4 linked regions of the Homo sapiens genome follow. The protein of the gene in region 2 purifies or fractionates together with the protein of the main gene of each other region. This does not show direct contact. Each region holds a gene or a part of one and is shown on either strand. Other genes may lie near its edges. The genes, in order: BOK, BBOX1, CIAPIN1 and TANK.

What was found.
Region 1: the proteins of BBOX1 (region 2) and BOK purify together in Homo sapiens (affinity purification with mass spectrometry; one large-scale study listed by BioGRID and IntAct). This does not show direct contact.
Region 3: the proteins of BBOX1 (region 2) and CIAPIN1 purify together in Homo sapiens (affinity purification with mass spectrometry; 2 studies listed by BioGRID and IntAct, with this or other methods). This does not show direct contact.
Region 4: the proteins of BBOX1 (region 2) and TANK purify together in Homo sapiens (affinity purification with mass spectrometry; 3 studies listed by BioGRID and IntAct, with this or other methods). This does not show direct contact.

What each region holds. Positions count from the first base shown.
Region 1 is NC_000002.12:241,568,819-241,576,864, forward strand, and holds the end of BOK (bcl-2-related ovarian killer protein), read left to right. Parts: intron 1-1,306; coding exon 1,307-1,470; intron 1,471-3,478; coding exon 3,479-3,604; 3' UTR 3,605-5,313; downstream 5,314-8,046.
Region 2 is NC_000011.10:27,113,922-27,122,523, forward strand, and holds part of BBOX1 (gamma-butyrobetaine dioxygenase), read left to right. Parts: intron 1-1,530; coding exon 1,531-1,636; intron 1,637-5,727; coding exon 5,728-5,924; intron 5,925-8,602. UniProt on the Homo sapiens protein: Catalyzes the formation of L-carnitine from gamma-butyrobetaine.
Region 3 is NC_000016.10:57,426,995-57,434,795, reverse strand, and holds the end of CIAPIN1 (anamorsin), read left to right. Parts: intron 1-583; coding exon 584-752; intron 753-2,235; coding exon 2,236-2,309; intron 2,310-3,529; coding exon 3,530-3,645; intron 3,646-4,456; coding exon 4,457-4,538; intron 4,539-5,515; coding exon 5,516-5,626; 3' UTR 5,627-6,609; downstream 6,610-7,801. UniProt on the Homo sapiens protein: Component of the cytosolic iron-sulfur (Fe-S) protein assembly (CIA) machinery required for the maturation of extramitochondrial Fe-S proteins.
Region 4 is NC_000002.12:161,227,341-161,235,942, reverse strand, and holds part of TANK (TRAF family member-associated NF-kappa-B activator), read right to left. Parts: intron 4,973-8,602; coding exon 4,392-4,972; intron 602-4,391; coding exon 425-601; 3' UTR 1-424.

The sequences.
Region 1 (8,046 bases), on a different chromosome or scaffold from region 2:
GTGAATGTCTGTGACTGAGTGTTTGTTTGAGCTGATTTATGTTTTCATAACAAATCCAGGTTGGCCGCTGTATGAGGGTGGATTGGAGAGCAGTGCTTCATCTTTGCATGTACAGTGTCCTCAGGCTAACTCCCTCCAGGGACCACTGCTGACTCCCTCCGGGGACCGCTGCTAACTCCCTGCGGGGATCACTGCTGGGCTGCATGTTTTGTGGCCATTCAGATACTGCCAGTGCCCTCAAGCTGGGCTTCCCACCAAGGTTTACAAGGCTGTGCAGTGGCCTGAATCCTCACACTGCCATTTAAAAGCATGTATTTATTTATTTATTTAGAGACGGGGTCTCGCTCTGTCGCCCAGGCTGGAGTGTACTGGCGCGATCTCAGCTCACTGCAACCTCCGCCTCCCCGGGTTCAAGTGATTCTCCTGCTTCAGCCTCCCGAGTAGCTGGGATTATAGGCGCGTGCCACCACGCCTGGCTAATTTTTTGTGTATTTTTAGTAGAGACGGTTTCACCATGTTGGTCAGGCTGCTCTTGAACTCCCAACCTTGTGATCTGCCCGCCTCGGCCTCCCAAAGTGCTGGGATTCCAGGCGTGAGCCACCGCGCCTGGCGTAAAAGCTTTTAATGCAACAGATTACATTTTGTTTTAATTTGCCTTTCTTTGGTTATTAATGAAGGTAAACATTTTTCGTGTCTCTTATTATAATTTTCTTTTGTGAATCAGCTGTTCCAGTTCTGTGCTCATAGTTCTTTTTTGAAAGCCTCTCTTTTCTCGCTCACGTATAAGACGTCTTTCCGTGTTGAGGCGTCGTGTCCTGCCTTTTATTCTTTCCCCCGCTGTCACCATCTTTCGTCCTCTCTTTCAAGGCTGCTCCCATCTCAGTTCAGCCTCAGCAGGTTAGGGGTCTGGGGAAGGCAGTTTCTCTGCGGGCCTCAGCTTCTTTATGTGTAAAATGTGGACGCCAGGCCTGTTGTGGGAACAGGCAGCCCAGGGGTGCCACCCGTGAGGTCACTGGCTGCTCACTCCATCTGCTGCTGCCCTCAGTTCCCTCGCCTCACCCCACGTTGTCCCTGCGGCCTCCTGCACAGACGTGGGCTGGGCAGGTGTGCAGTGGAGGCCGAGAAACCTGCCTGCCCAAGAACTACCTGACAGGCATCCTGTCAGGGAGCGGTCCCCCCTTGGGACGGTCCCTGGTCATTAGCTGGACGGCAAGCAGGACAGCGGCTCAGAGAGGCCCAGCCCCTTCCTTAAGTGCTCCCGTGGGCGGGATTCAAGTCCTGATCTTGACCATCTCTCTCCCTGCAGGCATCACGTGGGGCAAGGTGGTGTCCCTGTATGCGGTGGCCGCGGGGCTGGCCGTGGACTGTGTGAGGCAGGCCCAGCCTGCCATGGTCCACGCCCTCGTGGACTGCCTGGGGGAGTTCGTGCGCAAGACCCTGGCAACCTGGCTGCGGAGACGCGGCGGATGGGTGAGCGCCTGAGTGCCCGTGTGGGTGGGAGAGCTGGGGTGCGAGGGTGCAGAGGTACAGGAGGGAGTGGTGGATGGGTGAGCCTCTGAGCGCCTGGGGGGTGGGAGAGCTGGGGTGCGAGGGTACAGACGTACGGGAGGGAGTGGCGGATGGGTGAGTGTCTGAGCGCCTGGGGGGTGGGAGAGCTGGGGTGCGAGGGTGCAGAGGTACGGGAGGGAGTGGCGGATGGGTGAGCCTCTGAGCGCCTGGGGGGTGGGAGAGCTGGGGTGCGAGGGTACAGACGTACGGGAGGGAGTGGCGGATGGGTGAGTGTCTGAGCGCCTGTGGGGGTGGGAGAGCTGGGGTGCGAGGGTGCAGAGGTACAGGAGGGAGTGGTGGATGGGTGAGCCTCTGAGCGCCTGGGGGGTGGGAGAGCTGGGGTGCGAGGGTACAGACGTACGGGAGGGAGTGGCGGATGGGTGAGTGTCTGAGCGCCTGTGGGGGTGGGAGAGCTGGGGTGCGAGGGTGCAGAGGTACAGGAGGGAGTGGTGGATGGGTGAGCCTCTGAGCGCCTGGGGGGTGGGAGAGCTGGGGTGCGAGGGTACAGACGTACGGGAGGGAGTGGCGGATGGGTGAGTGTCTGAGCGCCTGTGGGGGTGGGAGAGCTGGGGTGCGAGGGTGCAGAGGTACAGGAGGGAGTGGCGGATGGGTGAGTGTCTGAGCGCCTGTGGGGGTGGGAGAGCTGGGGTGCGAGGGTGCAGAGGTACGGGAGGGAGTGGCGGATGGGTGGTCACCTGAGCACTCCTGGGGGAGATGGGTGAGGCAGGGGGTGGGGCAAGGGCCGAGACCTACAGGCAGGCCCTGGACTCTCCTCTGCCCAGATCCAGCACTGACTTACCCCCGATCCTACCCCTGTGCTAAGGACCCGCTGCCCCAGCCCCCGCCCTCCCGAGTGGGAAAAGCAAGGCCCCGAGGGGTGGGTGTCAGAGCCAAACCCTTCCTCTGTCTCCACGCCCCCAACTTCCTGCCCTGCTCCGGCCAGACCGCAGTTGCCGCTGGGCCCTGGGTGTGGAGGGTGGCTCCCCTGCCGAGAGTCTAGCCTTCTTTCCTGTACAGCGGGTGTTGGCCTGGTGTGTAAATCAGCGGCCAGGGGTGACAGCGCTCAGACCCCTCTGCTGGGGCCTTAGCTTTAGCATCTCGAGAGATTGAGGTCACGTGGTCTGCGGGGGCTGTGGTCTCCTCTGAAGGCTGAATTGGGGGTGCAGAGGGCAATGTCCCAAGATGTCGCACATGGCTACAGGTGTCCCTCAGCACAGAAACCCCAAGACTTCCGTCCCCTCCTGTCTTCCTCCTGTGGAGTCTGGCATGGGGCTGGGCACTGTGTGCCCAGTGGGCGACGACACTTTGAGCAACGCCAAGGCCACAGGTCCAGGCTGCAGGGAAAAGCCTTCATGTATTAGCAGGAAGTGAAGGGAATAAGAGAATTGGACGTTCATTCACTTCCCCAGAAGGAACTTCAGAGTCCAGGGAGTCCGTGGGCTTCCGGAAACGCAGTCCCTGCTGTTGTTCCAGGCAGAGTCTGAATGAAGCTGGGTTTGCCCCTTCCTGGTAGCCCAGGCTCCAAGGCCCCACAGGAGGATGACGGCGGCATACCTGTAGCCCCTGGGGGGCAGCAGGCAGGTGGCCGAGGGGAGCTGGCACCCTGGTCTGGATGTCTGGAGCCCCAGCGAGGGCCATGAAGGCCTCTCTCCTGCTCGGCAGGGGCCCTCCGGCCGGCCTGCCTGGCTGCCATCTGTCCCCACCTCCCGTGCCTCCTGGCCCTTCACACTGTCTGAATGTGCACGGCATCGGGTCTGGTCTTGTGTTGGAGCCTTCAGTCCAGGCCACAGACCTCCTTCCCGAACAGTCTCCTGCATTCCCTTCATGCAATTTTGCTGATATTCTGGTGCACGGTGCTGGGGGGCCTGGCGGTGCTGGGGGCCTGGCGGTGCTGGCTCTGCTTTCTAACGGTCTCCCTCTTCCCTCCCAGACTGATGTCCTCAAGTGTGTGGTCAGCACAGACCCTGGCCTCCGCTCCCACTGGCTGGTGGCTGCACTCTGCAGCTTCGGCCGCTTCCTGAAGGCTGCCTTCTTCGTGCTGCTGCCAGAGAGATGAGCTGCCCACCTGGCAGTGGCCGCAGCCTGGCCCTCTGGGCCCAACGCAGGAGGCCCTCAGCACCCGAACACATCTTCCTCCTCCCCACCCGAGCCTGGAGCACTCTAACCCTCGGAGACCCCCTAAGCCCCGTTCCTCCGCAGACCCAGGCCCTCCGGAAGGGGTGAGTGGGGAGGGGCTTTCCTGAGCCTGGAGCTGGGCTTTGGGGCAGCCTGCGACCCTCCCCGCTTGTGTCCCTTCTCCTGTGATCTCTGTGTTTTCCCTTTTCTTTCTGGGGCCAGGAAGTCAGGGTCAACTCCCAGGCCTCAGATGCAGGGGCCCAGAACACCTGCTCTCACCTGAGCCCCAGGTGAAGGGGCCCGGGAACACCTGCTCTCACCTGAGCCCCAGGTGAAGGGGCCCGGGAACACCTGCTCTCACCTGAACCCCAGGTGAAGGGGCCCGGAACACCTGCTCTCACCTGAGCCCCAGGTGAAGGGGCCCGGAACACCTGCTCTCACCTGAGCCCCAGGTGAAGGGGCCCGGGAACACCTGCTCTCACCTGAGCCCCAGGTGAAGGGGCCCGGGAACACCTGCTCTCACCTGAACCCCAGGTGAAGGGGCCCAGAACACCTGCTCTCACCTGAGCCCCAGGTGAAGGGGCCCGGAACACCTGCTCTCACCTGAGCCCCAGGTGAAGGGGCCCGGGAACACCTGCTCTCACCTGAGCCCCTGGTGAAGGGGCCCGGAACACTTGCTCTCACCTGAGCCCCAGGTGAAGGGGCCCGGAACACCTGCTCTCACCTGAGCCCCCGGTGAAGGGGCCCGGAACACTTGCTCTCACCTGAGCCCCAGGTGAAGGGGCCCGGAACACCTCCTCTCACCTGAGCCCCAGGTGAAGGGGCCCGGAACACCTCCTGTCACCTGAGCCCCAGGTGAAGGGGCCCGGGAACACCTCTCACCTGAACCCGGGGGTCCCATCCCAGGAAGAAGGGCCATCTCAGGACATGAGTCCTCAGGGGCCCTGCACATTCAATCTGAAGGTGACCCTGGCCTGGCTGAAGCTGGAAGAGCTGTGGGGACTCAGCCTGTAAACAGAGCGTAAGGTTCACATGCTGGTTGCTTAATCCGTTTCTGGAGGAAGAGTATGACACCCACTTGTGATGGGGTCCTTGTGCGGTGGGGACCGGGGCCGGCGGGCTCCAGGCCAGCACACCTAACCCATGGATGTGGAACCTACGGCCGAGAAGGAATGTTGCATGAGTCGGATCCCAGTCCATTGTCAGTGGAGGGTGAGGGTGACCCCATCTGCTATTTTTGTGCTCATCCTCATACAACCATTTGGGGATGTGCCTATTAGGGCTCCGTAAGAACTCAGATGCCTGGGAAGCCCAGCCCCTCAGGTGCCCCCACACACAGCCTTCCCTTGACGCCTACATTTCTAGGCACATGTGAGGCATCTTTCCTGGAGCCCCGAGCCAGCCCTGTCCCTCCCCAGTGCAGCATGGCACTCAGGAGATACAGGCTGGACATGGGGCAGTCGTTCTGGGGAGGCCTGGCCTAGCAGCCACCCACCTGAGCCCTCCCGGCCAGGCTTCGTGCTGGGGTGGGCCATGTGCCAGGACAGGAGGGTCCCGGCGGAAAGCCAGCCCCGGACTCATCGTGACATTGAGATCCCACTGGAGGGTAGGGGTGGTAATAAACTTCTCCAAACGATCGTTGTCATTTTAGACAGAATGTCACTGTGTGTGTGTTAAATAGCTTCTACCTATACACAACATGGTAAGAGGTGCGGAGGGTTTGCTTGAAAATAATTGAGGGTGGGGAGTGGCGAGAGGGTGGGGATGGGAGGGTTCCTGGAATTGGGTCTTTATCCTGATTAGATGTAAAGGCACTAATGCTGATTTCCAGTAGTAAAAAGAACACCGATAGTCCATAGTGTGATGTGGCAATAGAGGTATGCATAGTATCACCACTGGGTGCTCCTAATTAAATACTTGCAGAAGGCAGGGTTCTCGGTGGCTTTTGAACACTTTCATCAAACTAGAGTATAATGGGCCAGGACCAGTAGCTCACACCTGTCATCCCAGCACTTTGGGAGGCAGGAGGATGGCTTGAGGCCAGGAGTTCAAGACCAGCCTAGGCAACATAACAAGATCCCATCTCTAAAAAATAAAATTAGTCAAGCACGGTGGCCTGCACCTGTGGTTCCAGCTACTCTGGAGGCTGAGGTGGGAGGATTGGTTGAATCTGAGAGGTTGACGCTGCAGTTAGCTGTGATTGTACCACTGTACTCCGGCCTGGGTAACACAGTGAGACCCTGTCTCAAAAAAAAAAAGCCGTGTGTGGTGGCTCACGCCTATAATCCCAGCACTTTGGGAGGCCTGAGGCGGGCAGATCACCTGAGGTCAGGAGTTCAAGACCACCTTGGCCAACATGGCAAAACCCCAACTCTTCTAAAAATACAGAAATTAGCCAAGTGTGGTGGCAGGCACCTGTAATCCCAGCTACTCGGGAGGCTGAGGCAGGAGAATTACTTGCACCTGGGAGGCAGAGGTTGCAGTGAGCTGGGATTGCCCCACTGCATTCCAGCCTGGGCTACAGAGTGAGACTCCATCTCAGAAAAAGTATCATGGGAGTGAGCTCAGGATTCAGATTCCCAGCTGAAGTGTCACATGAATAATCTGAAAGTTATGACTGTCCCAAGAGAGACTCTTACCTCCTTTAGCTGCGGGTCTGAGACTACTGAAAATCAAACCCAGAATCTCGCCCTTCCAGTGGCTGGATTATAGCACATGTGGAACTCCCAGCCTCACGGTGTCTGCTGTGCAAATGAAGGCATTGGTTAGGAAGGAATGGGATCCTGTCAGTTGGGATGAGGATGTGTGGGGTGACCCTGATGAACAGTGAAGACAACCCCTAAATCCTGATGAGTCTTCAGTGGAAGAGGCCTTCCTAACCCTAGTGGTAGCCTCCCCAACTCCATCTGAGTGGGTTAACCCTGTACTGCCTGAGGAAATGGGACTGCCCTGAGGCTGCTGACTAGCAGGACCAAGCTGCTGCTTCCCAGGATCTGCCCCCACCCCTCTTTGCTTCTAGACATGGAACTAGACTGATGTTGGGCAGCCCCTAGAGATACAGGGCGTGACCATGAGGAGATGCACTTACCAAAGAGAACGTGAGTTTTCCAGTTTACATAGAAATCCCAGGACCGTGGGAATGCATATTGAGGGCCTGGGAGAATGGTAGGAGGAACACAGAGTTAGATCAGGCCAAGTTTATTGATACGGGCTCACTAAGCAGAGATTCCGCATTTAGAAAGGGCTCTAATTGGTTGGTTGGCTGCTTGGCTGAAACATGGGCCAAAACATGGCCCACCATGGGATAACTGGACATGCCTGGCCGCCCATGGTTAGTGTAGAAGAAGGGATTCAAAGGCTTAGGGAGATTGGAATGCTAGAGTGGATTTGTCTGCCCCATGCTGCTTTCGTTCCCCTGCTAGAGTGGATTTGTCCTCCCTATTCTCCTCTTCCTCCTCCTCTGCAGCCCTCCACTACCCTCCTCCTACATCCCTCCTCCTCCTCCAGTCCTCCTCCCTCTCCCCTTCCCCTGCAACTCTCCACCACTCTCCTTCTCCCACTGCAGTTCTCTTTTCTTTGTAGCCCTCCTCCTCCTCCCCTGCCAGCTCTCCTCCCCCTCCCCTGCAATACTCCTCCTCCCCTTGCAGCCTTCCTCCCTCTCCTCCTCCCGCTGCAGCCCTCCACCCTCCTTCCCTGCAGCTCTACTCTTTTCTTTGTAGCCCTCCTCCTTATCCAGCCCTCCACCCCTCCCCTGGCAGCCCTACTCCCTCCCCTTCCTCCTCCTGTCTGCAGCCTTCAACTCCCTCCTCCTCCTATACTTCTCTCCCTCATCTTCCCTCAGGACCCAGCCCTAATGCCAGCACCCCAAGCCTTCGCTGACCCTTAGCAGGGAAGCTCCCGACTGGGTGCACGCGGCCGTGCCCAGGAACTCTGGTTCGGGCCTGCTGCAGGGCTCGTTTGCCTCTCCAGCGGTGGCTCTCAGGTGCTGCGGTGCCGTGGCCAAGGAGCCACACAAGAAGGCCCACGACCTGTGTCCCTCAGCTTTGTGCATCTGCTTCTCCGGGACGGGGCCCCCTTGAGGGCAGGCCTGGTGGACCACCCTGTTTCCCATGAGGCCTTGCACAGGCCTTCCTGTGGACACTGGACACGGGTGACTGAACCTGAAGTGTGAGATGTTTCTAAGATCTCATGAAGTGTGAGATGTTTCTAAAATCTCTACATGGGCCGACCACAACCTGCTATCTTCTGCTACTGTGTGCCATGCTAGAGCTCCCCTACCCTGGGAACAAACGCCAGGGTGCCCTGCGGCCCGGCTCTCCTCGGTTCCCCTGATCCATCCAGGGAACAAACGCCAGGGTGCCCTGCGGCCCGGCTCTCCTCGGT
Region 2 (8,602 bases):
TAGAAATAAAGGCATCCAAGTGAGAAATAAAAAAGTAAATCTATCTCTATTCACAGATGGTATGATCTTACATATAATAAATCCCATAAAATCCACCCAAAAAAAGCTACTAAAGCTAATGAATGAATTTAGCAAGTTGCAGGGTGCAAGATCAAACACAAAAATTGGTTGTCTTTATAAACAGTAGCAATGAACAATCTGAAAAGGAAATCAACAGATCCATTTACAACAGCATCCAGAAGAATAAAATACTTAGGAATAAATTTAATCACAGGGGTAAAAGACTTTTATAGTACTTTATACTATAAAACATTGCTGACAGAAGTTAAAGAAAACCTAAAGAAATAGAATGGCATCCTGTATTCGTGGATTGGAAGGCATAAAATTGTTAAGATGTCAATACTCCCCAAAGCAGTCTACAATCCCTACCAATATTTCAGTATCATTTTCTTGTTTTAGAAATGGAAAAGCCAGTATCAAATTTATATGAAATTGTGATGGCCTCCAAGTGGGCAAAACAATATTTAAAAAGAAGACTGAAATTAAAAGACTCATACTTCCTGATTTTGAAATTTAACTACGAATCTACAGTAATCTAAGTAGTGTGATATTGGCATAAGGATAGACAAATAGATCAATGGAATAGAATTTTGAGAGTCCAGAAATAAACCCACACATCTATGGCCAATCAATTATCAACAAGCATGCCAATATCATTCAATAGAGAAAGAACAACCTCTTTAACAAATTGTTCTGAGGCAACTGAATACCCCCATGCAAAGAATTAAATTGGACCCACAACTCATATCATATGCAAAAATTAATTCAAAATGAACAAATTATCTAAATATAAGAGTTAAAGCCATAAAACTCTTAGAAGAAAACATAGAGGTAAATCTTCATGGCTTTGGATTGGGCAGTGGATTCTTAGATATAACATTAAAAGCATGAGCTTACTATATAATTCCATTTATGGTAAATATCTAAAATAGGTAAATCCACAGAGACAGAAAGCAAATTAGTGATTGCCAAGGTCTTGGAGAAGGGTAGAATGGAAAGAAACTGCTTACTAAAATAAGAGGTTTTGATCTGGAGTAATATAAACGTTTTGAAACTAGCTATGTAGAGGTGGTGGTTGCCAACAGTGCGAATTTACTAAATGCCACTGAATTGTTCACTTTAAAGTGATTCATTTTCTGTTATGTGAACTTCACCTCAATAAATCACTTTTTAAAATGCATTAACCCAGTAAAAAGATAACCTACAATTCCATATATACTTCTTTATAAACTGTAGGATAGACTGATGTACTCTTTTGTTGAGAGGAGAGGAAAAATGAGGAGATGTTAATTCTGAAATAGTGACTTTAGGCAGAGAAAGGTCAGATTCCTTGTCTCACTCATAGTCATTATGGTAATTATTTCAAAAAATGAAAAGTTTCCATTTCTCCCCACATATCAAATTCATTCTAATGCATTTCCTCTGGCTTAGTGACAACCTGTTTAAACATGTGTTTCTTGCATTTTACAGACATACTTGGCAAGTGCAAGACAAAATCGATGCAAACAATGTGGCTTACACAACTGGGAAGCTAAGCTTTCACACTGATTATCCAGCCCTCCATCATCCACCTGGGGTAAGTGAGCTTCAACATATTTTCCACAAAGCATGATGATGACCAGTATCTTTTCGTATTTTGAGTCTAGAAGATTACACATTTCACCAGGTAGTTTGTCTTTTATAAATTTTTTCTCCAAACACAATCCAAGCTCACAAAATCTCTGTACCTAAATCCTAAATATCTTCACATTCCTAAAGGAGAGGATAATTTCATTCATTTAAAACAACAACAACAACAACAAAAACATTTCTTTGTTCTTCCTAGAAATTACTATTAGCATTTTTTGCTTTGCCAAGACAGATTTTAAGGTAGGAGTAAATCTTAAGGTCTTTTTGCACATATATTTCTAAGAAAGTTAAGAGAGAAAATGAAATCAGTAAACAAAATGTAGGGTTTCCCTCAAAGTCACATGGGCATCATTCATATCCATTAACTACTGCTGCATTAAAACTCATTCTACTATAAAGACACATGCACATGTATGTTTACTGCAGCACTGTTCACAATAGCAAAGATTTGGAACCAATCCAAATGCCCATCAATGACAGACTGGATAAAGAAAACGTGGCAGATATACGCCATAGAATACTATGCAGCCATAAGAAAGGATGAGTTCATGTCTTTTGCAGGGACATGGATGAAGATGGAAACCATCATTCTCAGCAAACTAACACAGGAACAGAAAATCAAACACCGCATGTTCTCGCCTATAAGTGGGAGTTGAACAATGAGAACACATGGACACAGAGAGAGGAACATCACACACTGGGGCCTGTTGGGGGGGTTGGGAGGATAGGGGAGGGATAGCATTAGAAGAAATACCTGATGTAGATCACGGGTTGATAGATGCAGCAAACCACCATGGCACGTGTATATATATGTAACAAACCTGCACATTCTGCACATGTATCCCAGAACTTAAAGTATAACAAAAAAAAAAAATAATAACTCACTCCCTAACTTGATGGCTTAAGAAAACATCCATTTACTTAGCCCTTGTTTTTTCAATATGGGCTGTATTCAGCTAGGCAGCTCCTGTCTTCAGTCATATACCTGCAATTGGTTGCTAAGTTGGCTTGGGACAGATTGACTTTCACTGAGATGGCTGGTTTCTGCTCCACTCGGTCTATTCACCACCAGTAGGCTAGCCCAAGTTTAATGCATATGGCAACTAGAAGAATTTTCAGACAGCTACACAACTTCTCAAGGCCTGGGCTAGTCACCTCTGCAATGTTATATTGGTCTAAGGAAGTAATAAATCTAGCCCACATTCAGGAGGTGAGGAAATAGACCGCTTATGGAGGAAGCTGCAAAAATGCATTATAAACTGTGTGACTACAAGGAACATAATAACAGTGGCTATTTTTGGAAACCATCCAACATCCCATCTATCAGATTCCTTGTCAAGGAGGGAAATGCTCAGTGTGAAGCCACAAATCCCCAGGAGAATCTCTGGGTGGACATTCTTTCTCTACATTTTTACAAAAGTTTCATTTTACTAAATGAGCTACATTTTTACAAAATCATCATTTTATTACACCAAAAATAAGTGGTTAGGAAACTACCTTTTAAAAGATATGCCATCCCTATTTTTACAGCTAAATTAGACTATGTGAAATAACCACATAGAAACCTATATCTTCAAAGGCAAATGAAAATTTGGGCAATTCTTAAGTTAACAAAGGAGAATGGGCCAAAATCACAATTAGCCCAATTTTTTTTTCATTATCTTCACTGTACATGTTTTCTCTGTGCCCTTATTGTTACCCATTCTTCTTGCCAGTATTAGCTACGCTAGTCTAGTATTTAACTTTACATGTTATAAATTATTTTGTTGATTGTAAAATACCACATGATTTCTTTGAACTAAGTGGCAGTAAAATGACCCCTGTAGACACACTTTTGGGTAAGGGTTGGGGGCAGGAGACACCCAGTGTGATTTTATTCTAAATGTGGCTCAGATTTTTCTAAAACCCTAGAGTTAAGAGCCAAATTAATCAGCTCAGCTCTTCTTCCAAACATAGCTTGAGGGAGTTGGATGGAATAAGGCTTAAAGAATGAGACTAGAAAACTAAAAGTTTTATTTGAATTTTTAAATTATCTTCTGTCTTTTAAGAATTTAAGTTTTGTTTCTGGGTTAAAATTTGAAGCCTAAGGAAAAGTGACCAAATGACTTCATAAATGTTCCTGAAGTATAATAGAATGCTTGACTTTTTCATAGTCATAGCACATTATACTACTTCAAAGCAGTTTTGCTTTCATTATTTTATCTGACTCTTCTTGACATTCCTTTAAGGTAGACAAGATTGATCATGTCTTTTTATGTCAGATGAGAAAATGAAACACGAGATTCAATATTTTTATAGGGTGACATTTGATTAAGGAGGAACTTGGACTTGAACCCAGGCCTCCATCTAGTTTTCTGTCACACCACACTGATCCTGAGCTGGAATTTCTAACTATTATAATTTATGTAGTAAAATAGAATATTTATAGATTTTATCGTACTTTACAAACTTCTTAAAGACAAGAATTGACTCTTGGGAAGAAAAAAGTTCTTTGTATTTCAATACTTTGTATCTCAATATTTACACGCACATTGCATGTAATAGAGACATCATAGATACACTATAAAGAGGCAAAGAAGTGCAACAAACCTGTACCTGTCTCCAGCAAATGAAACATCCAAACTAAGTGACTTGATAGGAGATTTTAAAATAGCAGATGATTCCTAAAATGTCTAGATTCTACTAGAATAATAAAATGTAGGCAACCTGTTTGTACTGTTGTTCAAACTTCCATTTTGAATTATTCCAGGTGAGTTGTGCCAAGGTTTGAGATTTTCTATAACAAACAGAACAAACCAATATATTTTTCTGTATAGATGAAATAATCTGAAAAATGAGTTACCTGTTGAGAGTTCAGTTTGATCGATTTGGATTATGTGGGGCAGAGATAAGGCACCACATCTTTAATGAAACAGAGATGTTGCTTCACTCACTGTTTTTGCAGAAGTCACATGCTGCATAAAGTAACATTCAGAAGGAAAATATTTTTGGTTCTGAATGACTCATATGAAGTAAAATTGGGTTTTATACATGACAGGCATGTATTTGCGTTTTAACCTAGCAATAAAAGTATTGTCAGGCTCCATCATCTTTTTTCTATTTGAAGATTGTATTAAAAGTGTAACTGTACAAAAGAAAGTATCAAGGGGCCTTGACATATGTAAATAACATTAAAAAATGATCTTTTTAAAAATTAGCACTTGAAATATTCTGTCAGTTCATGATGGCAAAATCTAAAAGGATTTAAAGAACACTGTGATCCTCCAAAAACAAAGTTATGCTATTGTTTTGCTACTCTGACCAGTTCCTTCCTCAAAAAAAAAAAAAAACATAATCCTATGTAACACCACTGGCCTAATACTTTGCAGCTCAGTTCCGACTACATTACTTTCATATTCAAAAGCCTTCAGTGAATTCCCTCTATGCACAAATACAAAAGCCCTTCATCTGATATTTAAGACTCTCCATCATGAGGCCTCACCAATTGCCCTTCCAACCTGATTCACTCTTTCTATTTATGGCCCTCTGCTGTAGCCAGACTTTTTATTACCCAGTGAACTGTGCATTTTTGCACATCATTATTTCTGTCACCTGATTTGCTTTCTCGTTCTATTCTGCATAACCCAAATCTCATCCATTCCCCTTTGCCTAACTTACCCGCCTCTTCCCCTTGAAATCCTTCCCTGCCTACTCCAACATCAAGTGCTCCATCTATGCAGCTCTTACAAGCTGTTCTTTTTGTTTGCTAATGAGCATTATCATGCCTGCATCTATGTCTTCAACTGTAACATGTTTGAACTATACAGTATTGATTATAAGCAACTTTTTTCTTCCCAACTCTTTTCTGATGACATAAGAAAGACAAAAAAAAAAGTTTATTGGCTTTGGTTCATTCATAGCTTTTTGAATCTTTAACACAGTATCAAAAAATGGTGCATGTATATTATTTTATTTTATTATTTATTTTATTGAAGATTAATTCTAATAATTAAAATGTAATTTAATATTTATTTAATAATGCATATTTTCTTTTTATAGGTTCAGCTTCTTCACTGCATAAAGCAAACAGTCACAGGGGGTGATTCAGAAATTGTAGATGGGTTTAATGTGTGCCAAAAACTAAAGAAAAATAATCCTCAGGCATTCCAGATTTTGTCCTCTACCTTTGTGGACTTTACAGACATTGGAGTGGATTACTGTGATTTTTCTGTACAATCAAAACATAAAATTATAGAGTAAGTACTATTTATAAATTTCCCATAGCAATAAAAGAATTGACAACAAAAGATCCACTAATCTAAAGTTTAAACAGCACAAAACTTCAACGAACTTCAGAGCTTTATTTTTATTAACATTTCACCCAATTTTAGAGTGATAGTATTTTCACCATAAAAGTTTTTATTAAATTACATAAAATTTATCCCTAATCAGTATTAGAGGAAAAGTAACTAAGATTTCACGTATACTTCATTTTTAGAATATAAGTTCTACATAGCTATAATCAATGTGATTATACTAGTTAGAAGGCTTTTGGCCAGAAGTGAAAGAATATAACTCAAAATAGGTTGATCCCAAGAGTTAAACAATGTCATGTGATATTGGTCTCTTTTTTCTTCTTAGCTTTGCCATCTTCTATGTTAGCTTTATTTTTCAAAGATGATCAGCAGAAGCTCCAAGATTTCATTTTCCTTACAGCTAGTAATCACACCACAAACAATGCTTTTACTTCCCAATAAAGCTAGATGACTCAATCCCTAATTTCTGTCCAAGTCTATCCCTGAATCAATCATCATGGCCAGTGGGTTAGAGAATTCTGATTGTCCATGCCTGGATCACATGTTCAACTCTGGAGCAGGGTCAGCCTCATCTGAATCACACGGACTGAGAATGAAACAGGGAGGCTCCCCAAAGAGATACTAAGCCAACAAAGATCATATATTACCTACACAGAACATTTTGTATTCTCCCTTTCTTTTTATTTAATATTATTTTATTATAATTTTTCCAAGTACCTACAAAGGCCACAAATTCATCTTTTTATTTGCAAATTAACTTACATTTTGTTTCTACAACAGTTTATTTAATTATACCTCGATTAATTTTGGTAGGGGGGTATAATTTTAGAATTTTAGAATTGAGTTTAAATTTTTCTATTAAGAGAAACAGCCAAATGGTATGAAAATAAACTCATTTAGAAAATAATTAAATCCCCAGTACATTCATTTATTCATTCAACAAATATTTATTGAGGCCAGCCACTTTTCTTGGTACTTGGAATACATCAGTGGACAAAACAAAGATCTCTCCCCTCATATAGCTTATACTCTAATGGGGGAAGGGAAATTTTAAAGATTTTTAAACAGATGAGTAAATTATAATAAAAGTTAAAAATTATTAAATGCTTAAGAAAAAAAGGAAGAGCATAGCAAGATAAGGGGAATCTGTAGGGCTTAGCAAGGACGGAAATTGCATTATTAAAGAGCGTGGTGAGGGAAAGCTTTACTGAGATTTGAGCAAACACTTAAACGAGTGATGGAGTTTTCAGAAGAGAAGCAGTTTCCCGAAACTGCTAGACCAAAAGTTCTAAAAGGGTCCTAAGGACATGTCTGGAGTGTTCAAGGAACATCAAGGAGACCAGTGTGACTGGAACAGAGTGAAGGATGCAAGTATTAGGGGAGGAAGTCAGGTAGGGACAAGTTCCTGTAGAGTCTTGTTAGCAAATTATAACAGTAACATTTACTCTGAGTGAAGTAAGAAGTTGCTGCAAGATCCTGATCAAAGGAAAGACTTTGATATTTATGTAAATTTAGTTATATTTTAAATGGGTCACCCTGACTGCTAGAAAGAGCAAGGATAGTAGCGGGAAGACCAGCTAGGAAGCTACTGCATGACTCCAGGCTAGCAATGGTGGTGCCTTGAACATGAGTGGCTAGAGTGACAGCAGTGGTGGTGTGGAGAAGGATCAGTTTTTGGTTACATTTTGCATGTATAAACAGATTGTTTTCGTGAAAGATTGGAGGAAGTGTCTGAGAAAAAGATAGACGTCAAGAATGAAATTCTAGTCCAGAATAAACCTGAGACGTTTTCTAAGAATTCACTCATCAAGGTGAAAAGGAAATAACTTGAGACCCTTAGTTATAATGTGACAGTTTTAACTAGTCAAATATTAACTTAAAAATTCATGACAAATCAAAATTTTGTTAAGACACAATACGATTACAGATTCTGCAAGGCTAGTGAACAGAGGCAAGAAACATAGCTATAGATAAGATTAACTGAATGTCCACCATGTGGCTCATGACTTGGCTTTGATATTTTCTGTAGTAAAATTTCAAAATTTGGCCATGTGTGAGGTCTCAGGAATAGCCCCTAGAGAATAAATATCAAGTGGTTAACATTAATTCACTTAAAAGTATATTTTCAACAACAGGAAATGAAACAGAGCGTTCTCAGTTAACAGAGGGCCTCCATCTCCTAAGTGTTTGGGTTAATTTAATTTTCTTTGTGGTTAAATCCTTAAATTTTTATGTCCTAGTACAAAAATGTCTTTTATGCTGCTGACTGAATTACTTATAATTCAGTACAAAGAAAAATAAATCAATAAAGAAACAAGCAAAATTAATGACGGTGAGACTCAGCTATCCTATCAACTACACATTCAATCACGTAAATTCAAGTCTTTTACTTGCCAGCTGTGTAATCTCTCATGTGATTATTTACCCTTGCTGATCCACAGTATATTTTCCAGTTAAAAAAACGAAAACAAAAAATACTGCCACACATGATTGAAGTAGGAATTGCAGAGTTAATATATGGAAGCCCCTACTATTGTGCCTAGTTTAGAAAATGCAGAATACATTTTAGCTAGTTATAATATGCATGAAGTCCAACACACTTACTGGGGGGAGATTTC
Region 3 (7,801 bases), on a different chromosome or scaffold from region 2:
CACCCTTAGATATCATAGACACTTACCTACTTCAGTGTATTTCCCTTCATTCATATTAATGATGTAATAGTATTCCATACAATAGATGGACTGTGATTTATGTAACCAGTCTATAATTATTGGACATAGAGGTGGCACCCTGACCCTTTTTTTCTACCTTTACTCTCTGCTACTTTATCCCAAGGAACATAGAAAGGATTTTCCTCCCCCTTTTTCTTTTGGGATATAAATTTCTGCTGTCTTCATTGTGGGCATTCTTTCCTGTTACACAGTAGGACCACATCTGGTTCATTTTCATAATTGTATTACATCCCAAATAACTAGTATATGCCTCATCCCTAATGTTTTTTAAGTACTTTTACATTTTCCAAGGGGTAGGCTCCAAGTAAACATGCAGACAAAGGTTATACTCTAGGGTTCTGATCAGTGAGAAACTGAATGTGAGGCATAAAGTGTTATCTGTTACCATCCACTGTTACATCCTTAATGCACAGAAATGAGTCTTTGACTCCTGTGTAGGTAGACATAGTAAACCATTTTACAGAGGAGGGTGAACTAATCCTTTTGATGTCTTGAATTCTAGCTGCAGCGGGAGCCCCTAACCCCTGAGGAAGTACAGTCTGTTCGAGAACACCTTGGTCATGAAAGTGACAACCTGCTGTTTGTTCAGATCACAGGCAAAAAACCAAACTTTGAAGTGGGTTCTTCTAGGCAGCTTAAGCTTTCCATCACCAAGAAGTCTTCTCCTTCAGGTAAGGCTGGCCTAGGGACATTCTTCTGTTTGAATGGGCTTAGAGGGACATGTTAGAAATTGAGCCAGCAATAAATGAGATGGTGATATTTTTAGAGGATTAGTCCTTTGATTTCTGCCATTTCCACAAAGAAGAATACTTAATGTACTATTATCATGGGCATATTAGGATCCAAAACTGAAATAATACATAGGTATTATCTAGTTCAGCTCCTTCTTCTGCACCAGAAGATACCGAGGCCTCCTAATTTTACAGGACTGAGTCACACAGTTTAATTAATGAGGTCCTTCCAGGTCCCAGAATTAACGTTTCTCCTCAGAAGACCTCACAGTGTAGTGGTAATGGTGTATGAGAGTGCCCTGTTCCTGTTCTCATGTGCTTTTTTCCCCATGCCAGGAAAATCAGCTGTTCTTACTTTGAGGATGCTAAGACACTTATAAAACTATATTTCTTCTGACTAGAAAATTGTGTACAAGCACACGCGTGCACGCACGCGCACGCACACACACACACACACACAGCTCCATCCTCATCCTTCCTATCCCTATTTTTAAATGCCTGAATTGACCCAGCTGTGAGGTATGCAGACATTAACAGATATTTACTGGTACATTCCCACTTGTACGGTTTTGACTGTCTAACCTAAATCTTCAAGAAATCCTTTGGAATCTAACCTTTCGATTCATGGTTCCAGAATGGGTAGGAATAGCTTAGAACAGTTGGCCTTGTGGAAGGTATGAGCATCCAGCTGTGACAATGATCACTAGAGGGTACTCTTACCCCAAGGGCCTGCGAGGATTTGCCCACACTGCATCCGAGCCTCAGCTCTCTGCCTCTTCCTTGCATTCTCCTGACTAGACAGAGAACCAGGAAGTGTGAGGTTTGTCTGCCACTGATGGTGTTACCTTGCCACCAGCAGCTCTAGAGCCTATTTTCTTGTATGTAGCAGGTTTACATGAGGCTAAAGCTCTGCTATTTTTGAAGGTTTTGACACATTTCTCATTTAATCCTCAAAACACCTGCAGTAACATAGGAAGTACAATTTAACTTCATGTTATAGAATGGAAACTAAGGTATCGAGGAGGAAGCAATATGGAATGGAGGTTAAAAGCATCAGACAGGCTTTGCAGCCTGTGGAACCAGCCTAAGTGTCTAAACCTGTTTCCTCAGCGGTAAAAGTAGGATGACAGATAGTTACCTCATAAGGTTGTCAGCAGAATTAAGTTAGATAATGTATATAAGTGCTTAATATGGTGCCTGGTGCAAAGCAAGAGCTTAGCAAATGGTGACTTCTGTAACTATCAGCAAGTGGTTGGCCCAAGGTCAGACCTCTCAGAGGGGTAGAGCTGGACTGTGAACCCACATCTTCTGCCTCCCAGGCCAGTGTGTTCTCTTCTACACAGCAGGAAGCATTTATGTATGTTTGTAATTAATAGTTTCTGACTGTGTTTATGGAGTTTTTTCTTTTATTGCTTGGACTCAGTGAAACCTGCTGTGGACCCTGCTGCTGCCAAGCTGTGGACCCTCTCAGCCAACGATATGGAGGACGACAGCATGGTGAGCTGGCAGCATTGTCACTTGATTGCTTTCTTTCAGGCCCCAGTTTGGGTGTGAACAGCTATAGTGACCTTTCTGGACTTGTAGGTGTGAACGTATTTAAAGCCCAGATTTGTGACTATGCCTGTCACATCTTTGATTTAGAAGGAAACTCCATGTTGGTGGCTTTTTTTTTGGAGACAGTCTCGCTCTCTTGCCCAAGCTGGAGTGCAATGGCACAATCTCGGCTTACTGCAATCTCTGCTCCCGGGTTCAAGCGATTCTCATGTTTCAGCCTCCCAAGTAGCTATGATTACAGGCATGTGCCACCACACCTGGCCAATTTTTGCGTTTTTAGCAGAGACGGGGTTTCACCATGTTGGCCAGACTGGTCGCAAAACTCCTGACCTCAAGTGATCTGCCCGCCTCGGCCTCCCAAAGTGCTGGGATTACAGGTGTGAGCCACTGCGCTTGGCCATGTTGGTGGCATTTTAAATTTTTTAGCATCTCTTTTTCCCCACATAATTTCTTGTTCTCACTTCATACGATATGTTGAAAACTCTTGTGGGCATGTGTAAACCTGAAAAGATTTTGTCAGCTTAAATAGTTTTATTGGCACCTTTGGGCAAGTTGCTGACTGTTCCATGCTTTAAAAAGCACTATTTTCTATCTTTGGCCATGTCTGTAATAAAGTTCTTCATTTCTACACCTCTACTATTGAAGTTAGAGTAGTGAGCAAAATAAGTGAGGTTCATGCTCTCATAGGGTTTACAGACTAAGTGTCTACACATTTACAAAGAATTACATAAAGGTATATATAATTATTTGATTTTTATCTGGGATTATGTAAAAGATATTTTATTCCCTTTTTCACGTGACTCTTCATAAACACTTCTCTCTTTCTCTGTTCTGCCTGTTCCCTCCCTTCTCCCCACTCCTGCCCCCAACCCCCAACATGTGTATATTCTCTACACATTGCTGGCCAGTCATACAGCTTTTTCTCATGTAAATTTGTTTCTAATTCCTTTGCATCCTAGTGCATCTTCTGTGGATGTAGTTTAACTCACCGTTGGCCTCTTGAGCATGTGGTCAGGTTGAACATGATGATCAACCAAAAGGAGGACAGGGTGGACACCTTCTTTACCCTGGACTCCAAGTTTCCTCTCGAAGCCTGCAGTCACTTTAGCTTTTCATTAGCAGAGACCACGACTGTATCACTCATTGCTTTGAACACTCTCCAGGATCTCATTGACTCAGATGAGCTGCTGGATCCAGAAGATTTGAAGAAGCCAGATCCAGCTTCCCTGCGGGCTGCTTCTTGTGGGGAAGGGAAAAAGAGGAAGGCCTGTAAGAACTGGTGAGTGCTGGGGTGACTGGAGCCTGCCATGCTGCCTCCAGTGGCTTCATGCTGAAGACATCGCGGTGCTGTACTATTTTTAGAACATACATTTTCCAGGCTGGGCAACACAGGGAGACCATCTCTGCAAATAATTAAAAAAAAAAAAAAATTAGCCAGGCATGGTGGTATGTACCTGTGGTCCCAGCTACTTGGGAGGCAAAGGCAGGAGGATCACTTGAGCCTGGGAGGTCGAGGCTGCAGTGAGCCGTAATTGTGCCATGTATCTAATTTCACTCTCCCTCAAAACCCTACCAGTAAGCCACTATTGTGCCACTGCACTCCAGCATGGGCATCAGAGCGAGACCTTGGTGTCTTCACATTTGTTTTTATAAATGGATGGGAAGGATTGTAGAAAGTTAATCAGTGATGTTCATCATCAGCGTTAATCATCAGTGTTTTTTAAATGTAAAAGCTGCCAGCATTTACAAATCAGGAAATTTCAAGTGAAAACACAGATTTTTTTCCCTTCTGTTCTTGAATTTGGAAAATATGGCAATCTGGGTCCACTTTCCCCAGCATGATAACCAGCTGAAGCTTGAGTAGTGGCTGCCCTCTGTAGACAGAGCACACACGGTACTTCCCTCATCCTCCTCCCACTTCTGTCTCCCTCAGCAGCCTCTCATATTGCTGCTGTCTGCCTGGCCTATAGGCTTCTGAGTTATGACACTGGTGTGAAGAGAAAAGGCTTAAAGCACATTTTGGCACTGTTAGGATTTGGGATTTCTGGGTGGTGACAATTCTCGTTCATTAGTTACTGATTTTCCCGCAGCACCTGTGGCCTTGCCGAAGAACTGGAAAAAGAGAAGTCAAGGGAACAGATGAGCTCCCAACCCAAGTCAGCTTGTGGAAACGTAAATATCAGGATCATTCCTCAGCATTCACAAACCCCCAGGGGGATTAGACCTTCTTCTAAACTAAACACAGACAAGCTCCACCTCAAATATTTTAGTAACAGACGAATGCGTGAGCACACGAACGTAGGTAGTAATGGGGAGAGAGGCTGTCTCCTGAGAGTGAGAGTGGGTTAGCGTGCTTGTGCTGGTCAGGGAGGGTCTTGTTGCTTTTTATTTTTGGCCCATTTCTTTGTACTTCAGAGTGGGACCTGATGGTTAGACAGTTAGCTAAAGTTGGTTGTGTTTTGAACTGCATAGAATATAGAACTATGGCCGGGCGCAGTGGCTCACGTGTGTAATTCCAGCTATGCCAGAGGCTGAGGCGGGAGAATCACTTGAACCTGGGAGGTGGAGTGAGCTGAGATCGCACCACTGCACTCCAGCCTGGGTGACAGAGGGAGACTCCATCTCAAAAAAAAAAAAAGGCCGGGTGCGGTGGCTCACGCCTGTAATCCCAGCACTTTGGGAGGCCAAGGAGGGCGGATCACGAGGTCAGGAGATCGAGACCATCCTGGCTAACATGGTGAAACCCCGTCTCTACTAAAAATACAAAAAAATTTGCCGGGCATGGTAGCGGGCGCCTGTAGTCCCAGCTACTTGGGAGGCTGAGGCAGGAGAATGGCGGGAACCCAGGAGGCGAAGCTTGCAGTGAGCTGAGATCGCGCCACTGCACTCCAGCCTGGGTGACAGAGGGAGACTCCATCTCAAAAACAAAAAAAAAAGAACTATGGCCTCCTAGGGAACTTTTCATGACTATAGTTTTTCACGAAACCAGAAATCTTGAAAACTCTTAGTATTTTGGTCTCAATTGGACCTGCAAACATAGCCATTTCCTTCAGGCCACTGTGGCCACATTATGAAATTAGGCATTTCTTTCTTCTGGCTGGTATGCCTGGGATAAGCTGACCCTTGGCTTCCCCATTCTCTCTCTCCAGTGCTACCTGGGCGATGCCTTCCGCTGTGCCAGCTGCCCCTACCTTGGGATGCCAGCCTTCAAACCTGGGGAAAAGGTGCTTCTGAGTGATAGCAATCTTCATGATGCCTAGGAGGTTCCTGACATGGGACCCATCTGCTCCTCCAGCCAACTCCTGTCCCTCACATCCCACCATGGTGGCTCCTCCCACCTCCTCTGGATTTGTTCACTCTGAGATCTGTTTGCAGAGTGGGTGCTTAGCAGACAGAGTGAAGCTGGCTGGGGGGCACAGTGGTGTGTAGTGCTGCTGTGTATCAAAAGACCAAGGTATTATGGGACCTGGTTTCAGAATGGGATGGGTTTCTTCACCTCATGTTAAGAGAAGGGAGTGTGTCCTGAAGAAGCCCTTCTTCTGATGTTAAAATGCTGACCAGAACGCTCTTGAGCCCAGGCATCGTTGAGCATTAACACTCTGTGACAGAGCTGCAGACCCCTGCCTTGAGTCTCATCTCAGCAATGCTGCCACCCTCTTGTCTTTCAGAGTTGTTAGTTTACTCCATTCTTTGTGACACGAGTCAAGTGGCTCACAACCTCCTCAGGGCACCAGAGGACTCACTCACTGGTTGCTGTGATGATATCCAGTGTCCCTCTGCCCCCTTCCATCCCCAACCACATTTGACTGTAGCATTGCATCTGTGTCCTGTTGTCATTTATGTTAACCTTCAGGTATTAAACTTGCTGCATATCTTGACATATCTTGAGATTCTGCATGTCTTGTAAAGAGAGGGGATGTGCATTTGTGTGTGATGTTGGATAGTCATCCACGCTCAGTTTGGACCATTGGAGGAACTTAGTGTCACGCACAAATGGGGCTATTCCTACGCTTAGAATAGGGCTTGTCTGCCCACTTTAGAAGAGTCCAGGTTGGTGAGCATTTAGAGGGAAGCAGGGCAGAACTCTGAACGACAATACGTCTCTCTGAGCAGAGACCCCTTTGTTCTTGTTATCCACCCATATGGACTTGGAATCAATCTTGCCAAATATTTGGAGAGATTGTGTGGATTTAAGAGACCTGGATTTTTATATTTTACCAGTAAATAAAAGTTTTCATTGATATCTGTCCTTGAAACTTGATTTGATTCTCCAAGTTTGCTTTGCTTATCCTAGTCCCTGCTGGTGGATTTTAGTTGTTTGTTTGGCTAATTGAAGTTTGGCTCCAAAGCCCCTTTTATACACAGGTCTAAGATGACCCCTAGTGACTCATGCCCTTGTGTAATAACCCCCTTGAGTTTCAGCAGGACCTGTGAATGTGATGGGATAATCCCTACTGTGATTAGGTTACCTTCTGTGGCAAAAGTGAAGGGATTTTGCAGATGTAATTAAAGTCCCTAATGGACTTGAAGTTAATTAAAAGGGAGATTATCCTGAGTAGGCTTGACCCAATCAGTTGATCCTTTAAAAGAACTAGAGAAGAATTTCTCTTGCTAGCCATGAAGAAGTAAGTGCTGTATTAGTCTGTTTTCATACTACTATAAAGAACTGCCCGAGACTGGGTAATTTTTAAAGGGAAGAGGTTTAATTGACTCACAGTTCTGCATGGCTGGGGAGGCCTCAGGCAACTTACAATCATGGCGGAAGGCGAAGGGGAAGCAAGACACCTCCTTCACAAGGTGGCAGGGAGGAGACATGCTGAGCAAAGGAGGAAGAGCCCCTTATAAAACCATCAGATCTTGTGAGAACTCACTATCATCAGAACAGCATGGGGGAAACCGCCCTCATGATTCAGTTACCTCCACCCCTCTCGCTTGACACGTGGGGATTATGGGGATTACAATTCAAGATGAGATTTGGGTGGGGACACGAAGCCTAACCATATCAGTTGCCAAGTAGGGAGAGGGCCATTGGCAAGGAACTGTGAGTGCAGGCTCCTCACATGCTGGCAGACAGTCGAGAAAAAGGGGACCTTAGTCCACAGCTGCAAGGAACCGCATTCTGCCAACAACCAGGTTAGCTTGGAGAGGACCCCAAGTTCCAGTTGAGAATGCAGCCTAGCCGGCACCTTGTAAGATCCTGAGTAGAGGCCCCGGTCTTCTGTGCCAGGACTCCTGGCCCACAGAACTTGTGATAAGAAATGGGTGTTTTAAGCAGCTAAATGTGAGGTCGTTGGTTACACAGCAGTAGGAAACTAATTCAGCCCCAGAATGGTTTGACAGTAACAAAATTATTATTTATTATTATTATTTTGAGATGGAGTCTCGCTCTCTCACCCAGGCTGGAGTGCAGTGGTGTGATCTCGGTTCACTGCAAG
Region 4 (8,602 bases), on a different chromosome or scaffold from region 2:
TTCAATAAAAACAAACTAAAAAAACCCTAGAAACATTTGACATCACCAAATTCAACAGCTCTCACTAGAAATCCAAGCAATAAACTTAGATATTTGAAATAAACATAAATTATGATTATATAACTCTAAGTCACATACATAATTTTGAATTATAGTAATAGCACTGTAAACATGAATACAAAGGATTACAGTTTTATACAGAATTTTTTTTGTTTTTCTTCTTTTAGGCTTATTTCTCCTTGAAAGAACAGAATGATCTTTTAAAAAATAAGAGTTATATAGTAAATCCAGAAAAAAATTCAAATAGCTGTGAAACTAGATTTTCCTATAAATGATCTTGAATTTAGTTTACAATCAAGTATTTATAGTATTAAAAACCCAAAATCATCACATAGAACTTGATATGTCTGTTTTCAAATGTGTCTTAAGTCTCTCCATTGAAGTGTGAATTAAGATGCCGAAGGAAATCCCCCCTGGATGTAATGGATGGTGGGAAAACTGCTTGACAGAATTCACATACTCGAGGTATATGCAGTTCTGAGTCTGTGCCACTTAGTACCACCGAGTCACTGTCTTGATTAGGAAAGGGCTTCCAAATGGGCTGCAGGAAACAAACAAAAATATCTGTTACTTATGTTTAAATTCAAATAGCACTGGACTTCAAATTTGAATTTCTGAATGAGTTACGCATGGGCATATATATTGAATTCCCTAATATAAAAGCAAATTACTTTTCCGTAAAGTTAGCATGACATGACTCAATTCGTGGTTTCATAAAGGGCACAACTAAACTTTGATTAAAAGTCACTTGGGACACACACAGTCATGCATTTTATCTTTATATATTTAAAAAGATTGCAGCTTTAGCATGCAATTTTTAATACTCGATCACAACAGCAGTAGTTTTGGAACAATAGCTAATACTCTGGTCTTTTAAATTAAATTCTATCTTTTGTTTTTTACAATAAAAACCTTAAATTATAGGGGCTTTATTAATTACATAGTACACAAGACATGATGTGTGTGTGCATTGCGTCTTAATCAAAATCAATTTCACTACTGTTTATAAGCAAATACAGTGAATACATCATACATGAATCAGCATTATTTTGATTTTTAAAAAGAAAATTTTCCTTTTAAACTACTGAACAAATTTCACTGATGTTATCTTTTGTTTTTAAAAACACAAATATTTAATCATTCAACAAAATCTAACACATGCAGTGTTTTGACTTCTTACTTTGCTTCTGTTATATAATAGGTAGTTTGGCCTTACTCATTCTTGTGGCTGAATAAAGTGAAACTCGTCAATAGTTGCCTGGTTAAAGAATTATGGAAAGTCATAATCTAACAGAACCACCTCCACTATAACCAGCACATAAATACCCTTTCATAACTGCATTTATTCTTTTTTTTAAATTTCTAGAAGGACAAGAAATAGCATTTAGCTTAATAATAGCTACACAATAGATGTCTGTTAACTGGAAAATATTTTCCTGAATTGTGTAAACCAAATTATTTTTTAAAATTTCTTATGTGGACACAGGTAAATTCCTCTGACACAGCTAAATTCTGATATTTTAAGAAGAATCATCTCATAAAGTCAAATTTAAAGAGACCCCTTATCCTCCTATTACTAATATGTTTTTAAAGTCACACATCCTAGTCTAGCACCTGACAAGTGTTACTGTTATTTCCCCTAACTTCTTTCATTCTGGTTAACCAATCATTTACATAAACAGTATATTACTAATGGAAGCACTTGGATTTCACGACATCACTGTCTTCTTATGAACAGTTTACTGGACAGCTGTGTACAATTGGTGTAAATATACAACGTCTGTCTAGGCACCCAGACACATTCAAATATCAGTATGGAGGACTTATAATAATGCTGACTCAATTCCTTTCATAAGAAATGTCAATTTTATTACAAAAATAGTAATATTTAAAATAAATGTTATAAAATTTAGGGTAAAATAACTCTCTGGAAAAACTTCTTTGATAAAAGTAGTAAAAATTGTGAGCATACAAACAAAAATCTAGTTAGAGTTAACTTGATTCTAATTTTAATGTTTTCAGTTTAAACAAAAAAGTACAAATCACTGTAATGGGAAATTGATATGGCCAAAAATAAAAGATTATTAAAGATAATTCTTATTTATATAAAATAGTAAGAAATTAAATCAGAAGCAATTTAGCTTCTAAATTTGGTAAGCCAATCTTCTACTCCCAATTTACCTATTAAATCCATATTCATTTTTCTCTATTAAGAACTTTTAGTTCAGATTTGATCTCTTCATAGAATTTAGTTGGGATCCCACTCACTGACTCAGCAAAGTAAAAAAGAAAATCACATAGAACAATAATAATCTGATATACTTTAGTCTTGGTTATGATAGCTGAATATATAAAATAGATGTTTAGTAGTAATGATTGATAGAAAGTAAAATTTTGAAATATGTAGCCAAAAATTTCACTTGTCTTTGCTACTATCTACAAACAACTCAGGATTTTTTTAAAAAAAAAATTATTATTATTATTTTGAGACAGGGTCTTGCTCTGTCACCCAGGCTGGAGTGTGATGGCACCATCACAGCTCACTGCAACCTCGAACTACCTAGCTCAAGCAATCCTCCCACCTCAGCTTCCCAAGTAGCTGGAGGCCACAGGCACAAGCCACCACACCCAGCTACATATATCTATATAACTATACGTATTTGTAGAGACAAGGTCTTACTATGTTGCCCAGGCTGGTCTCAAATTCCTAGGCTTAATCAATCCTCCTGCCTCAGCCTCCCAAAGTGCTGGGATTATAGGCATGAACCACCGTACCTGGCCCAACTCAGGAATTTTGTACTTATACTAGCTTTGTACTTATACTAGCTTGCATAATACTAGCTTTATTAATACTAATAAAATAGCTTAAAAGGTTTTTTTTAAAAAACTCATTTTAAGAAATATTCTTTCCATCCTAAACTGTAACATGGTCTTCAAAACAAACTAATTTCTTTGCTTTTTCTGCCAAAATATCAATTATCTAACCTTATGCCCCATGTCTTGTGACAACTCAACACTAATTCTCCTGAATTTTTTAAGCTGAATACTTTTCCATCAAGTTGTAATCACATACCAGCTGTTTCCCTTGCTGTAGTATAGAAAGCAAATGTACAATGCAGGGTGCCATCTACTGAAACATGAATGCACAGACTAGTAAAAGAACAAGCAAGACATATAATAGAGAAAAAAGTAACAAGCATTAGAACTGATGCACTTCACAGCTCCACAGGAATTCTACTTGCAATAAATGAAATTGTTTAATTTGTTTCATTTAGTAGCAACTATAACTGAGACTATGATGTGAAATAAAGTACAATGAACAAGAACATAAGTGAGGTTATAATTAAAACTTATTGTCAGCCATGCCTAGTTCTTCCCACTACTAAAATATACCACAGCTTGACAACTGCCTTCTTTGCGTGCTGATTTAAGTCTATAACCTATATGTGTACTTAAAGCAAAAGGGTATTAATAACTTTTTTAAAAAAATTAAATATCTCAAGGCAAAGAGAAATCAGACAAATGTTTGCAAGTTACATAGACATTTACATCAATCTGTATTTTCATAAGCTTCTGTTTTTTGTAAAAATTATATAGTTTTCATTTGCTTTCAGACATTAAACTTTTTTTTAACTAAAAGAATCATTCTGTGATAGAATTTGAATCTAAAAGGGAGGGCAGGAGTGGTTTGGGGGATATTAGTCTGTGAGCTTTAGAAACATTAAATAAAATATTTGATATCATACACATGCAGAGACTATTTAAAAAATATACTAGGCTACATGTTCATTTCCAGATTAGCAACCAAAACCAAACTAAACCCTACAGATCTGTGTACTATATAACTGAAGATGTAGTAGAAGTATTCACTGAAAGATAGTTCACTTATTTTGATAAATAGAAATGTAAGATGCAATTATTTACTTATGAAAGATCTTGAATTCTTATAAAGATGAATATGATATACACAAACTATTAAATAAAACAGCATTTGTTTCACACTATGAAATTTAATATTCTTATTAATCCTGAGTAAACAAGCTTTGAATAAGGAACTAAGAAAGTGACACCACGACAGATATGGATAAGGCTTAACATGTATTTTTAAATCTGACATAAATTCTAAGGTACTTTCCAATAAAGTTTTACCATATTCAGCTTTTCTAATTTCATGTCATTTATTATGGGACTTGTTTTTTTGAAAGCCTTAACTTTGGCTGTCAGTAGTTTAAAAAGGATGTTTGATAACGTAAAAGAGATGCATATCTGTGCATGTATGGCAAAATGTGTGTTCACACATAATAATATATTTGTTAATGCAAAACAGTTACCTGCTGTGGTCCTCGGATTGCTTTTCCCGGGGAATCGAGTGAGGGAAAAGGTGCATCAGATGGGTCCAGAAGTGGGAAGCTATTTACATATAATGCATTATGGTCTCCAGGTGGCAAACACGCAGCTCTATCCAGAGTTGTCCTGATACAAGTGTTTACGAGATTTGAGGGCTTTGTTTTGTCAGTTGTTTTAAGGTTTTGTATAGCTGAAGCTATGGGGTCAATTCCCTGAATTTCAAATAAAGTTTCTTCTGTTTTAACAAAGTTCCCTGGGTTGTCTCTGAACTCCATATTAAATTTCTCTTGGCACACTGCCTCAGACGTGGCAGGACTAAGGATGCCGGGTCTCTCTGGAGTGCTATGTAAGAAAGTTGAGTCATTGTCCATAGGTGGAAACTTGACATTGAATTTAGAAAGTGATTCAAAAGAGGTGTCTTCCTCATCTCTGCACAGTCCTCTTGGTGTGACAGATGTGATGGATGGTGCACCTCTATTTATATCATCTTTAGCCTGAGGCTTAAACAGCGCTTCTTGTTTATCTGTTTTATCCGTACACTGTATAGGCACAGAGCACTGTGTTTCTGGAGGGAGAAGAACACAAAAGAGAAACAGCCGCATTCAAATCATTAAAAAAATCTGTTCAATCAGCTTTGGAGAGATTATTATTATTTTTTCTATTGGTTTTTATAGCAAATGAAGACAACTGGGATTTTAAAATTTGCTACCATCTTACACAGAATATTAGCAGTCTCCAGCGGGTGAACTGAAACATAGCTTATTAGTCGCAATTTAACTACTTTGTCTTTTCCTAAGTCTTCTGCCGTAAGCTTTGCATCTTGTTCACAGTTACACTGCTCCACACTTGAAAAACATTTGCTTGTAGTGTATACATTTAAACATTTTGTCAGTAACGGAAGCTATAACTGTGAGTTTGCTTAGACAAATAAGTTGTTAAAAGGGAAAATCTTACTAGGTATATCTAAAATTAGGTCATTTATTATTAATGTCACTGTCTAACTAAGTATATCACTAATCAGTTTAGCCACTGTCTGCTCTCAATAATCCATGTGAGGGACTGGTGGTTGCAGGAGTTGGGAAAAAGAAGACAGTGAAGGCAAAGGAAGGATGAAATATTGTGATGCATGTTAAGAAAACTGTGGATGAATAGATTATTTTATCATCTTATATCTTTTTTTAAAAAAGACCTCTGTAAAAAACAGGTAAATATCTGGTAGACAAAAGGGCCTCTGTAGCTCATTTATCTAGAACCACTTATCCAACAAATTCAGCTTTGTAGGACACAGTCAAAAGCTAGAAAGAAAACAGAGCTTCTGAGGAGCCAGAATTAGAGCCACAAGGTTCATAGATAGATGAATTTTGTTCCTATTGTCATTTTAGATTTATTCTAACAAACTTGGTGGTATTTCCACAGCTCATAGCTGGTTTGAAACAGCAAATTAAAAGGGAGTATGAGTTGCTAAAGGCAGACATAGATATCAACAAGAGCTAAAAGCATAGGAAGAGATAAGAAAGACAAAGAAGCTGATATAAGAACTTAGAAAACACTACAGTCTAGTATAGGGCCAATGAGTGCTCAATACAAAAAAACAATCATCAAAGTACTCTCCATGTTGATGATTCTGAGACACTAGAAAAAGCCAAATTAAGCTCCACAATGTCCCTTAAAGAAGGCACTGAAGTTGGTAATGTATGTATTTTAAGGATTGTCATCAGCACTGTTGAACATTCACAAATGGAGACATTACCAATGATGCAAATCTAGGTAGACAGGGTATACAGAACACAAGGTATACAAAGTATCTGTACAGGTTAGTAGGCACTTAACAAATGTCAGTTCCTTTATATTCCTTTGGTCTTGGCAGTCTCATGACACCTCTCTGTCTTTTGCCACAGCACATTCCAATATATTTTTTTCTGTTTGGGTATGTGTAGTAAAATGCAACCAACTTCTTTGGTTCATTTTGTTATATACCTACTGCCTCTCTTTATACCTCTCTTCATACCATCCTTTCTTATTGGATTATTATAACAGCCTTTAAACTGCTTCCTTGCCTCTGAATTTGTCTCATATCCAATCTGTTCTCTTCACTGCAACTTCCCCTCCATCCCTTCATTCTCAGAGTAGTTTTTCTAAAATACTAATCTGACCAAGTTACCTTCCTAATAAAATCTTTTGATGGCTCTACAAGCCCCTCAGATCTCAGAAAAGGCTTATTAGACTGTTCATGACTGGCCCCTGGTCATCTCTCCATGCTCATCTTTCACTCCATACTCTGGCTATAATGAACTTTGTATAGTTCTCCAAAATAGCTACACTCTCTTGTCTTTGCACCTTTGCACCTGCTGTGCAGACTGCCTGAAGTGTCCCCTCCCATTACTCTTTGCCCAACTCTTATTTGTCCTTCATATCTTGGCTTGGACATAAGTTTCTCTGGATGACTCTCCCATGACTCTTGGATGCCCTGAGAACTGAAACACACTGTTATATAGTTATGTGTCACTTAACGACGGAACATTTTGAGAAATGCAGTCTTAGGCAATTTTGTCATTGTGCAAACATCATAGAGTGTACTTACAGAAAGCTAGACAGTATAGTCTACTACACACCTACATTATATGGTATAGCCTATTGTTCTTAGGCTACAAACCTATACAACATGTTACTGTACTGAATACTGCAGGTAACACAATGGTATGTGTGTATTTAAACACTGAAAAGGTACAGTAAAAATATGGCATAAAAGATAAAAAATGGGTATGCCTGTATAGAGCACTTACCGTGAATGGAATTTGCAGGACCGGAGGTTGCTCTGGGTGAGTCAGTGAGTTAATGGTGAGTGAATGTGAAGGCCTAGGATATTACTGTACATCACTGTAGACTTTATGAACACTATACACTTAGGTTACACTAAATTTACAAAAAAAACAAAATGTGCTACAATGTAACAACAGCTACCTACAATGTCACTAGGGTGATATTAACTTTTTTTTTTTTGAGACCGAGCTTCGCTCTTGTTGCCCAGGCTGGATAGAGTGCAATGGCATGATCTTGGCTCACCGCAACCTCTGCCTCCCAGGTTCAAGTGATTCTCCTGCCTCAGCCTCCCGAGTAGCTGGGATTACGGGCATGCGTCACCACGCCCGGCTAATTTTGTATTTTTAGTAGAGACGGGGTTTCTCCATGTTGGTCAGGGTGGTCTCGAACTCCCAACCTCAGGTGATCTGCCCAGCTCAGCCTCCCAAAGTGCTGGTATTACAGGCATGAGCCACTGTGCCTGGGCTGATATGAACTTTTAAGTACCATTATAATCTTATGGGGCCATCATTGTATATGCAATCTGTTGTTGACTGAAAATGTCATTTGGCACATGACTGTATTTCCAAGTATAACTCTGTTTCTTCCCACTAAAGTAGGTTTTTTGAGGTCTTAAACTGTTTTGTTTCCTTCTAACTCCAGACCCTTGCCCAGTGTCTGGCACATAGTATGCCCCTAACAAATGAATTCTGAATGAATCTGTAATCTCTCCCCTACAAAGCCTACTATAATAATCAACATTTACCAGATACTCTATGACTAGGAGTGCTATAGTAATTGTCACCAAGCTTAATTGTTTATCTGGATTTCTTTAGCCTCTGAGGTTCTTAAAGTCCATTAACTCTCGAGTAGTCATTTTCCCTGGCAGTAGACTTGAAAGTGGTAGGAAAGTCTAGGAAACAGTACTGTCTTTGTAGATGACATTTGCTACTTGCAAATAACAAATCAGGAAAACCAACTGTTGAGGTAATCAGATTCTGTAACACCCGAAGAGGAGAGACTTATCAAATGATCTTCACAAGGAGAACAAGGTGAATGCTGGAGAATCTGCTGCTGCTGCTGCTAATGGAAATGACTATTAACATTAATAGCACTTCCACATGGCATGTACTATTATAATAATTGTATGTACATTAATTCATATAATACTCAAAGTAATCCTGAGGCAGGCACTATTATTATCCCCACTTTACATGTGAAGAAACTGGTTGGAGAGGTTAATTCAAAGGCCACACAACTATTATAGTAAGTGGTAGATCTGCCACTGGAACCCAGGCAACCTAACTGTAGATTTGTGCTCTGAACCATTAGGCTAAATTGAACATGTTGGTTTCTATATATAGAGAGAAGTCCCCAAATTGACAGAAATGTGCTT